Linked DNA regions of Homo sapiens: region 2 is linked to region 1. The links come from fine-mapping of genetic effects on gene expression. A gene starts in region 1. The other region holds a variant in brackets. All regions are shown on one strand. Distances are between the middles of the regions.

Region 1 (5,375 bases):
AATGACCAGATTGGAAAATCTAGAGACAGGTCTTTAATTCTTACCTGTGGGTTGGGTAAGAACTGAGAATGAACTATAAGCAGGCAGGAGGGACCTCAATGGGAAAACGGCCCTGTTCTCACACTGGATTGTGGTGAAGGCTGCATAACTCAGGAAATTTACCATGAATTTGCATTGAATTATATTTTCGCAAGGGGTAAACTCTAAAAAACTATAGCCCAATAAAGTTTTTTTTTTTTTTTTTGAAAAACCACAAAAACAAATGTAATTGGGCTCAGCCATCCCTCAGATACCTCTACCCAGAAGCCCCCTGCCAAGGGCCTCTCTCTTTGCTTCTCAGAGAAGCAAAGAGAAAGGGTCAAGACAGGGAGGGGAAACAGCAGAGGAGGGGCATCCGGCCTGAACAACTCCATCAGGCAGAACAGGAAAGCCGTCTAGGACCCATGCCCTGACCCCAAGTCCAGGGCAGATTTATCCAGACTCCTCATTCCTTCTACAGCCTACAGCACATGCAGTCTCATCGTTGGGGGTGGTACTGATAATAGCAAAGATGCATCCAGTCTGGAGTGCCCTTGAAAGCCTCTCAACTGTCTGACATCCTAGGGACGGCAGGATGCCCTGCACAGTACTCTCACACATGCTAAGGCTGAAAAGGCACAAAAGGAGCATCTCCACGAGGCTCCTGGGCATTCACACAATTCCGCTACTGACGTTATCTACCAGATCGCAGCTGGAAATGCAGAGTAAGGCAGGGGTAGAAATCTAGCCTTGCTTATGCGCAGAGCTTACTCCACTCTCCTAGCATTAAGTCTTGCTAACTTATTTATTTATTTATTTTTGAAACAGAGTTTCACTCTTTTCGCCCAGGCTGGAGTGCAGTGGTGTGATCTCAGCTCACTGCAACCTATGCCTCCTGGGTTGAAGTGATTCTCCTGCCTTAGCCTCCCAAGTAGCTGGGACTACAAGCACGCACCACCATGCACAGCTAATTTTTTGTATTTTTAGCAGAGACGGGGTTTCACCCTGTTGACCAGGCTGGTTTCAAACTCCTGACCTCAGGTGATCCGCCCACCTCGGCCTCCCAAAGTGCTGGGATTACAGGTGTGAGCCACCACATGTTTACTAATAAACAAGACCATTCCTAACAAAGGGCATGGTGCACATTAGGTACAATAAATGTTTGCTGATTGACTCTAAAACTTTATTTATCAGATCCCTCCTCCCCCATGCACCTTTCCTTTGAAAAGTTACTGGGAAACACTGGGCTTCCTGCTTCCTGTCTTTTTGAGTTGGAGTATTCCAGATTAGAGACCCCTACATTCTCTGGGGTGCTTATGGAGTCGGGGCTTATCCTCAGCTTAGGGTCTAGTCTTTCCAAGTTACATGCAGTAAGTTAAAGAGACCTGTGTCATGGCTCTGTAAACCTGTCTCCTCAGAACCCTGGATCAAGCTGTGCTCAAAGGCAAGAATGCCATCGATTCATCTGCTCCCAGCTCCCAAAGCCAGGCCACCAGGCACACAATGGGCTCTCTGCAAAACTATCTGCTGAGTCCAGGGCCTTGAATGAAATTACCTTTCCATGCCATCTCCAATGAGCTCCTCTCCATCCTCTTCTTCCTCCAGGGGCCCCTCTGTGCCTAGGAGCCCCTCGGACTCATCCTCAAATGGTGGAAGGTCACGGCCAGGGCTGGAGGTGAGGGCATCAGTACGCCGGGAGCTTCGGCCAGGGCTGGAGGTGAGAGGATCATTGCCTCGCCGACGCTGGGCCGGGCTGGATGCCATGGTGAAGGATTCCGATGATTCCTGCAAGAGAAGGTGCGGTTGTCAGAAACCTAGGAAGCTGGTGAGGCATGATACAGCTTCCTTTTTACCATCAGGGGCCTTCCCTTCTTTCTCTCCACCTGTGACTCTTGTCCTCCAACACACCAAACCCCTTCCAGCCTCCAGATCTTTGCCCTTGCTGTTCTCTCACCTGGAATGCTCTCAGCTGAGCAATCTGAGTCAGTGGCTTCCAAACAAATAGAAGCCAGCTCAAATATCGGGGTCACCCACATCACCGTGCTTTCTCCATGAAAAACCACTGAGGTTATGTCATTTGCCTATTTACCTGTTTACTGTCTATTATCTCCCCTTAAGCATTAGACCTATTTCAGCACACACAGTGCGCAAGGTATTGTGATAGAGATGGCATAGAAGAGCCACCAAAACAAGAGGTCTGGAACTCAGATGTGGAACAGACAGTATACAAGACAAAGGGACAAGAAGGTAATACAAAAGTAAGTGTAGTGTTTGGAACAAGGATCATTGGGAAATTAAAAAAAAAAAAAGTTTAAAGGAGTGTAGTGAAATGGGGGCCTGTCTTTTGTACGCTCAGCGCCACACAGATGGCGCCCAATAAGTATGTGTGGGGTGAATAAAGGACAGAGGCTGAACGGGCCGAGCTCGCCTTAGGGAGCCCAGGGCCCCAGGTCAGTGGTAGGTAGGCGAGTCGCCTCACGCAGGGTGCAGGCGAGAAAGTAGCTGCGCCCCAGAGCCTGGGGCCCAGCCTCACCCAGAGCGCCGCCCTGGGCCGGGGCCAGAGTACGGGAAGCGCGCAGCCTCCGCACCCATGTCCCCGGCGCCCGCCCGCCACGCGCCAGCGCGCTCACCGCCATAGCAGTACCACGATCCTCTCCGCCACTACAGCAACAACCAGGTTTCGCGCGAAAAGTGGTTCACGTGACCCACCAAAGCCCGGGAAGAGCCCTACGGAACGCGACGTCATGACGTCGGCGTCCACTGGCGACCAGAAGGGACACGGAGGGGCGGGCCAGAGGGTCCGGTCCCGCCTACAACGCCCGAGGCGCTCCGCCCAGAGCCCGGAGGTGTGCGGCCCGGCGCTGTGCGCGTGCGCTCGCCTGCGCTGTGGTGGGAGCTGGAGCGGAGGTAGAAGCTGAGGCTCCAGGGGACCCGACGACACTTGCTGGCTGCGTGACCTCGGTCACACCAGGGCCATTTTGCTGACAAGACAACAGAGGCCGGGCGCGGTGGCTCACGCCTGTAATCCCAGCACTTTGGGAAGCCGAGGTGGGCGGATCACAAGCTCAGGAGTTCGAGACCAGCCTGACTAACATGGTGAAACCCAGTCTTTACTAAAAATACAAAAATTAGTTGGGCATGGTGGCACGGGCCTGTAATCCCAGCTACTCGGGAGGCTGAGGCAGAAGAATCGCTTGAACCTGGGAGGTGGAGGTTGCGGTGAGCCGAGATCCCGCCACTGCACTCCAGCCTGGGTGACAGAGTGAGACTCCGTCTCAAAAAAAAAAAAAGACAGCAGAGGTTCAGAGCCTGGTTTTCTGACGCTTCTTACCGTCTTAGGAGCACAATGGTTTAACTTCTCCCAAAGCTCAAAGGCTCAATACTTCAAGCAGCTGGACAACTCTGGGATTTTGTAGGAGGTCACATCTGAGGCTTTAGTAGGAGTTATCTTTGCCCAGGGGAGCGAAGACGCAGGGAGGATGTTACAGATAGAAGGATGCCATGTGCAAAGCTGCAGAGGTCATGGCAGGGCCCGGATGTGCAAGCCCCTCCCTAAGAACTAACCCTAGGAGCTTATGATGCCGGGCAACAGACAAGACTTGAGGGAGAGAAAATCCGGATCAAAAAAGAGCTAGATGTTTTTCTAGAGAGTTTGACTATTCTGTATTCTGAAAGCAATGGAAGGCCATGGAAGCATTTTGAGCAGGGTGAGACGTGAACTAGTGTGGGTTTTAGAATCCCTCTGGCTGCTACCAGGTGGAAGTGGATTGAACGAGGTTGAAGGCAGCAAACGAGGAGGTTGCTGTGGTTCTTGTCTAGTTCCAGGCAGCCTTAGTGAGCAGAGGCAGGGCTGAATCGCAACCCTCTTAGCCAGGCACTTTGTGCAGTGAACAAGCATCTCTGCCTGGGACCCAGGGTAGGGAGGCAGGAGTGATGGAGAGAACTGGAAATACAAGATGTTTAGGAGGTGGAATCTTTTTTTTTTTTTTGAGACAGAGTCACTCTGTCACCCAGGCTGGAGTGCAGTGGTGCAACCTCAGCTCACTGCAACCTCCACCTCCCAAGTTCAAGCGATTCTCGTGCCTTAGCCTCCCGAGTAGCTGGGATTAGAGATGCACGCCATTGTGCCCGGTTAATTTTTGTATTTTTAGTAGAGATGGGATTTCACCATTGTTAGCTAGGCTGGTCTCCAACTCCTGACAAGTGGATCCGCCTGCCTTGGCCTCCCATAGTGCTAGGATTACAGGCGTGAGCCACCACGCCCGGCCAGGAAGTGGGGTCTATAGGTGTTGGTGATTGAGGACAGCAAAAGAGGCATGCAGGATGACACCAGGATCCTGGCTTAGCTAGGTGGATGATAGCTGAGATAGGAGCGCACAGGAAGACCAGCAATTTAAGGGGGAAGAAGATGAGTTTGTTTCTGGCTGTGCTGAATTTGGGCCGAGGGGACATATCCAGGAAGCTGTTGGATATCCATGTATGGGACTCAAGGGCGTGTTTGGACTGAAGCTGTAGATTGCCTTGGGAGTGGTTGTATAATCCAGAGTGAGTGCAGGGAGATGAGAAGGTCTAAGCCTGGGACCTGGGAAACCCCAACAGTTAAGAGACACCAACAAAGGATGTGAAGGATGCACCTCGGATGCTAGGAGCTGCTGACAGGAAAGCTGAAGAGACTCTGCATGGGCTTGTGTTATCTATTGCTGCATAAAAAATTATCCTGGGATGGCCAGGCATGGTGGCTCACACCTGTAATCCCAGCACTTTGGGAGGCTGAGGCAGGTGGATCACCTGAGGTCAGGAGTTCAAGACCAGCCTGACCAACATGGAGAAACCCTGTCTCTATTAAAAATCCAAAATTAGCCAGGCGTAGTGGCGCATGCCTGTAATCCCAACTACTCAGGAGGCTGAGGCAGGAGAATCACTTGAACACTGGAGGTGGAGGTTGCGGTGAGCCGAAATTGTGCCATTGCACTCCAGCCTGGGCAAAAAGAGCGAAACTCTATCTCAAAAAAAAAAAAATTATCCTGGGATTTAGCACCTTGAAGCAATTAGCACCCACTGTCTCGGTGTCTGTGGATCAGGGATCTGGACACGATGCCACTGGGTGCCTCTTCTTCAAGGTCTTTCAAGGCTGCAGGCAAGGTATTGGCCAGGGCTGCTGTCTCCTCTGAAGGCTCATCTTCAGGAGGATCCCCTTCCAAGCTTCTTCACATGATAGGATTCAGGTCCTCATAGGCTGTTGGACTGAAGACTTAGTTTCCCACTGGCTCTTGGGTGGGGGCCTCTCTACAGAGCAGCTTACAACCTGGCAGCTGGTTTCTTTCAGAGCAAGCGAACAAGAGAGAGAGGCCATACAA
Region 2 (5,375 bases), 250 kb before region 1:
GGTATTCCTTTGTCACTAAGACAGATACCTATGTCATAATCTCTGGAACCTGTGATCATGTTACTTTACATGACAAAAGAGACTTAGCAAATGGGACTAAGTTAAGGATTTCAGAATTGGGAGATTATTCTGGACTATCTGGGTAGCCCAATGTGATCACAAGGATCCTAATAAGAGAAGCAGGAGGGTCAGAGAAGGAGGTGTGAGGATGGAAGCCAGGGCTAGGGTGGGGAGAGGGAGAGAGACATGACAATGTTAACCTGCTGGCTCTGAAGATGGAGGGAGGGGCCATGAGCCAACCAATGCTGGTGGCCAGTAGAAGCTAGAAAAGGCAAGAAACAGATTTTCCCCTGGATCCTCCAGAAAGGGGCACTGAACAGCCAACACCTGGATTTTTAGCCTTGTGAAACTCATTTTGGATTTCTGACCTCCAGAATTTATAAACTCACGTTGTTTTAAGCCACAAAATGTGTAGTTCTTTTTTAATAGCAGCAATGGGAAATGAACACAAATGCATTCTGTCATTCTGGTTCTTGATCTTCTCTTTCTCTGTCTCCGCATTCTTGTGGGGCGTCTGTCTCCAGCGTCCTAAGGTTGCATGATGATGTGCCTTGGTGGGGCACTTGGTGGGCCCTTTCAATGTGGACACTCATCTTCTAGTTGCCAGATTCCTCCCCCTCTGTCCCCATCCATCTTTGGGCTTCCTCTGTTCTCTTTTTCTGAAACTCTTATTATTTGGATACTGAGACTCATGGACCAGTCCTTTCAGGTTCTGAACTTTTCTCCTTTATTTTCCAACTCTTTCTCTTTCTGTCTACCTTCTGCCCTTTTATCTTCTAAAGCTTCTTTTGAGCTTTTCATTCCAGCAATCATGATTTTAATTCCCAAGAATTCTTTTTGGTTCTCTTGATGTTTATTTCTATTACATTCTGCTGTGTTTCATGGTTGCAATATCTTTTTTTATCTTCCTGGGGATATTAATGACTTTTCTAAAAAAAAAAATGCTTCCTGTGAAAAGCTCTTCTCCAAATTGCCATTCTCTGTTTGTCTATATCCTGGGCCACATCCGTCTCCATTCTAGTCCCACCTTTCGTGTTAGAGATTTTCCTCTCATCGTCTCCACACACCCAGGAGTGGGATACTAACACACGTATTGGAAACTGCAGGCGTGACTGGCCTGCCAACCTGGAGCTTGGCAGGAGCGTGCTGTGCTGGGTCATCTCACTGGGGTAGTCCCTGTGCTATCCCTCAAATTCCATCCAGAAAGATCCTCCAGTTTGTGGCCTCAGGGTGAAAACGTCCAAAAACTGATTAGGAAAGATGGCTAGAGACTTCAGCATCCAAAATACATATAATCTTTTACTTAGATGTGTTGGGATGACAACGCTGACCTCAGCTGTGCTGCTGCTGCTCCCGGTGCAAAAGACTCACTTTTTATCCTCTCCCCAAAATAAATCTCTCGTCTTCTGCTAGGTTGGGAGAAGAACAATCACCAAAAATGCAGAGTGGGGAGCGGGCCTGAGTGTTGGACCTCTCCTTAAACAAACCTTCCTGCAGCCTCCAGGTCACCATCCTTGTCACCTCTACTGCCAGAGACATCGAGTGCCTTGAAGTCCTGGGCTTTCCGGGGATTCTGTGGGGTAAGTCTGGCTGAGCTTCATCTTTCTCCATTGCCAGCTCAGGGCTTGGTCTTCCTGGGGCTGCCAGGTGTGTCATTTCCATGCTCCCTCTGCGTTCCAGCTTCCAGGACTGTGCTGCCGTGCTTCCTCTCCTTTAAAGCAAGTCTTCTATCATCACCAGCGAGGGGCCATGGAAGGAGCAGACTAGACTGCTCAATCTGCTGTCTCCACCTGGCGGACCTACCATGTGATTCACTTACAGACAGTTGGTTTGTTTTTGTTTTTTGTTTCTCTTTTTGACACTGAGTTTCGCTCTTGTTGCCCAAGCCGGAGTGCAGTGGCTCGATCTCGGCTCACCACAACCTCTACCTCCCGGGTTCAAGTGATTCTCCTGCCTCAGCCACCCGAGTAGGTGGGATTACAGGAACCCACCACCACACCTGGCTGATTTTCTACTTTTAGTAAAGATGGGGTTTCTCTATGTTGATCAGGCTGGTCTGAAACTACCGACTTCAGGACCGCCTGCCTCGGCCTTCCAAAGTGCGGGGATTACTGGCATGAGCCACTGCCCCTGGTCAAGAATTGGTTTTTAATGCTTCCTTCCTCCATACAACAGAATTCTTTTCAATAATGATCATTAAACAAAAGGAATAATAATAATGTCCAGAAAAGAACTGCTGTAGATAGTGAAAATTTTTTTATTGAACTTTGTATA[T/A]GTAATCATGCTGGCACATATGTTAAAAAAAGGTAAAAAGTCATGGATTAATTTTTTTAATCATAATTTTTAAAGGGGATTATTTTACTGCAGTTCACACACTGTTTCATTGTTTTACATTTTAAACAGAAATAGCTGGGCGGATCACCTGAGGCCAGGAGTTTGAGACTAGCCTGGCCAACATGGTGAAACCCCGTCTCTATGAAAAATACAAAAATTAGCCAGGCGTGGTGGCACATATCTGTAGTCCCAGCTACTTGGGAGGCTGAGGAGAAGAATCGCTTGAACCGGGGAGGCAGAGGTTGCAATGAGCTGAGATCGCACCACTGCACTCCAGCCTGGGTGACAGAGTGAGACTCCAGCTCAAATAAATAAATAAATAAATAAAAATTTTAAACAGAAATAAAAACTTCAAGTTACCTATAAAAGAATAACAGAACTGAAGTAATTCAAGTTCTGTTTCTTCCCCTGCAGAATCACTGTTAGCATTGTTTATTTTGAATCTACTGCTTAAAAGCAGGAACGTGTTGTGTGCAGACCATTGACAGGTTGGAAATAGGAGTTCAGAGAGTGCTTACGTGATTCCACACTTACAAGGAATGTATGTAGCTGAATCTGCCAGCACTGGGGGCCAACCTTGTAACTGGGAGTTCTCTGAATTAACTTCCATTAGCATGCATTCTTGATTAAAAGGTAAGTAATAAACATGCGCTAACTCAAAGTGTGCACATACACACTGAAAATGTAGCATGTTTTATTACATATTGATTTTATATATTTTCTTAAGTATACATTTATTCTATATATAAATGTGAAATACATACATAATGTGAGTATATATGTGTGTGTATGTTTACATATATATATATAAAATGTCTCCATTGTCAATGCCTCCTCATCCTTGAATCTAGGGAAACTGTTTCCACTGCACTGCCCTTAGGACATATGTCACATTCTGGAAATTCTAAAAAAATATTTTTAATGAAAAATTCTTTGACCACCCACTGTCCTCCAGATAAAAGCAGGAAGCTTTTATCTGTGTTCTCTTAATATACATATTTAACGGAGTCCTCTTCTGGGTCATGTTGGCTCACTGTCACCAGGTCAGGCAAGTCCATGTTACCAGCACCTTCGGTTTAATGCTGAAATCAAAAGCCCTCCTCTGATTAAGTTCAGGAGCAGCTTCCGCTCCCATCCAGCTCCGTGAGAGTGGATGATTTCCCTGGCCATATGGCAGGTGGAGGGAGTGATTAACCCCCTGTGAGGCCTCTGTGTTCCTTGGCTCTGCCGGCTCCTCCCTCCTCGAGCAGCCCGAGGCCCACCTGTGAATCTCGAGCATCTGCCGGCAGGCCCAGCCTGGTCATCAGCAGCTCTATGGCTGCTGTGTGTCTGTATTTGTATTACTGTATTTTATAAGACAGCTGCCCCCTTACTTTTCTGCCTCAGCTTTTGAACTTTCCTTTGCACGTTGTCACCAGTGATAAAGCTGATGCTGTCTCTAAGGGCGGGTGAAGCTGACAGCCCTTTTTCACCTGGCTTCATCCAAGGCCCATCCACAGTCCTGGGCCTGAGTGAGCAAGGGACCCTTGCTTTTTTCTTTTTTAAATGTGGATATGCAACTAAATGTTTTATTTTCTACACTGTCCTGGAAGAAGCAATAGGTCAGCCAGACCAGAGGCCCTCTTGAATATATAGCCTCTAGTTAACCGTCTTACAGAAAACTCAAACTCTTTCCCTTCATCATATCATCTTTTTCTCCTACAACTTTTATTTTAACAAACTTCAAATACACCCCAAATGTTAAAAGAATAATACAATGAAAAACGATATAACCTGTCAATTCACCAACTGTTAACATTCTATCACATTTTGTTTTAGAATTTTCTCTCTTCATATACACACACATACACACATATACATTTTAAAACATCATTTGAAATTAAATTTCAGTCATCATATTCTACCTGTAAATACATCAACATGTATTTCTTAAGAGATATTCTCCTGCACAAAACTCAGCAAATTTAACATTATTGATACACAGCATTGCTTAATATATAGTTTATATTCAAATTTCCCCAATTGTACCAACAGCATTCTTTACAGATTTATTTGATCAATAACCTAATCAAAGATGGCTTTCATTTGCTGTGCTTCTTCATCTCCTTTAAGCTAGAATAGTTCCCCTTCATTTATGTGCACCTGTGTATGTGTTTTGTGACATTAATATTTTTAGAGCCCAGGCTAGTTGATTTCCAGAATGTCCTGGATTTGAGTTTTCCTGAAGCTTATTTGTGATTAAATTTGGGTTCTTGAAAAGAATACCAGAGAAGTGATCCTCTGCCCCCAGTGTAACTCAACAGGTGGGACATGATGCCTCTTTGCTCCTTTATTGCCCAAATTAGGATTGCTCTGGCTGGGCACGTTGGCTCACACCTGTAATCCCAGCACTTTGGGAGGCCGAGGCAGGCAGATCACTTGAGGTCAGGAGTTCGAGACCAGCCCGGCCAATATAGTGAAACCCTGTCTTTACTAAAAATACAAAAATTAGTCGGGTGGGGTGGCACACGTCTGTAATCCTATCTAGTCAGGAGGCTGAGGCAAGAGAATCACTTGAACCTGGGAGGCGGAGGTTGCAGTGAGCTGAGATCACGCCAATGTACTCCAGCCTGGGCGACAGACCAAGACTCCGTCTCAAAAAAAAAAAAAAAAAAGAAATAGGATTGATCACTTCATTAAGGTATCAGTAGAGGTAGAGATGCAAAGAGCCCTCCCTCTTTGCAAGAAACCAGGCTTTTAAATCCTTTCTTGCATTGTAGTTTCTATCCAAGTGCTGTGCACATAGTAACTGACAGTCAAAATAGAAGAAAAGCAAATATCTGTTGGGCTTTCTCTTTTTTTTTTTTTTGGAGATGGAATCTCGCTCTGCCACCCAGGCTTGAGTGCAGTGGTGCGATCTTGGCTCAGTGCAAGCTCTGCCTCCCAGGTTCACACCATTCTCCTGCCTCAGCCTCCCGAGTAGCTGGGGCTACAGGCACCCA

Direction of the effects. Alleles are on the strand shown, and positions count from the first base shown. SD is a standard deviation of normalised expression in the study named.
For the expression in subcutaneous fat of the gene that starts at base 2,710 in region 1, A is the high allele of the variant in region 2 and T is the other (large effect, 1.7 SD a copy in TwinsUK).

Evidence for each region. PIP is the estimated chance that this variant, and not a neighbour inherited with it, causes the effect. A credible set is the group of variants that fine-mapping cannot tell apart.
Region 2: its variant is the best candidate, but not a certain one, in a credible set for the expression of MCM2 in subcutaneous fat (TwinsUK, PIP 0.56).

Annotation. Positions count from the first base shown.
Region 1 is chr3:127,595,746-127,601,120 of GRCh38, reverse strand. MCM2 (minichromosome maintenance complex component 2) reads right to left here and starts at 2,710. Exons shown (of 16, transcript NM_004526.4): 1 at 2,649-2,710; 2 at 1,574-1,803. The coding sequence starts at 2,654. It also overlaps a transcript of TPRA1 not described here. RefSeq lists a silencer at 2,412-2,571 and enhancers at 2,602-2,721, 2,075-3,032.
Region 2 is chr3:127,850,334-127,855,708 of GRCh38, reverse strand. LOC107986129 (a long non-coding RNA gene) reads left to right here. Exons shown (of 5, transcript XR_001740896.2): 4 at 1,474-1,640. All of the region lies in intron 1 of LOC105374096 (a long non-coding RNA gene), which reads right to left. Among named protein-coding and RNA genes, the nearest start is that of MGLL, 31 kb to the right of the region's middle. The variant T/A (reference allele first, on the strand shown) is at 2,335.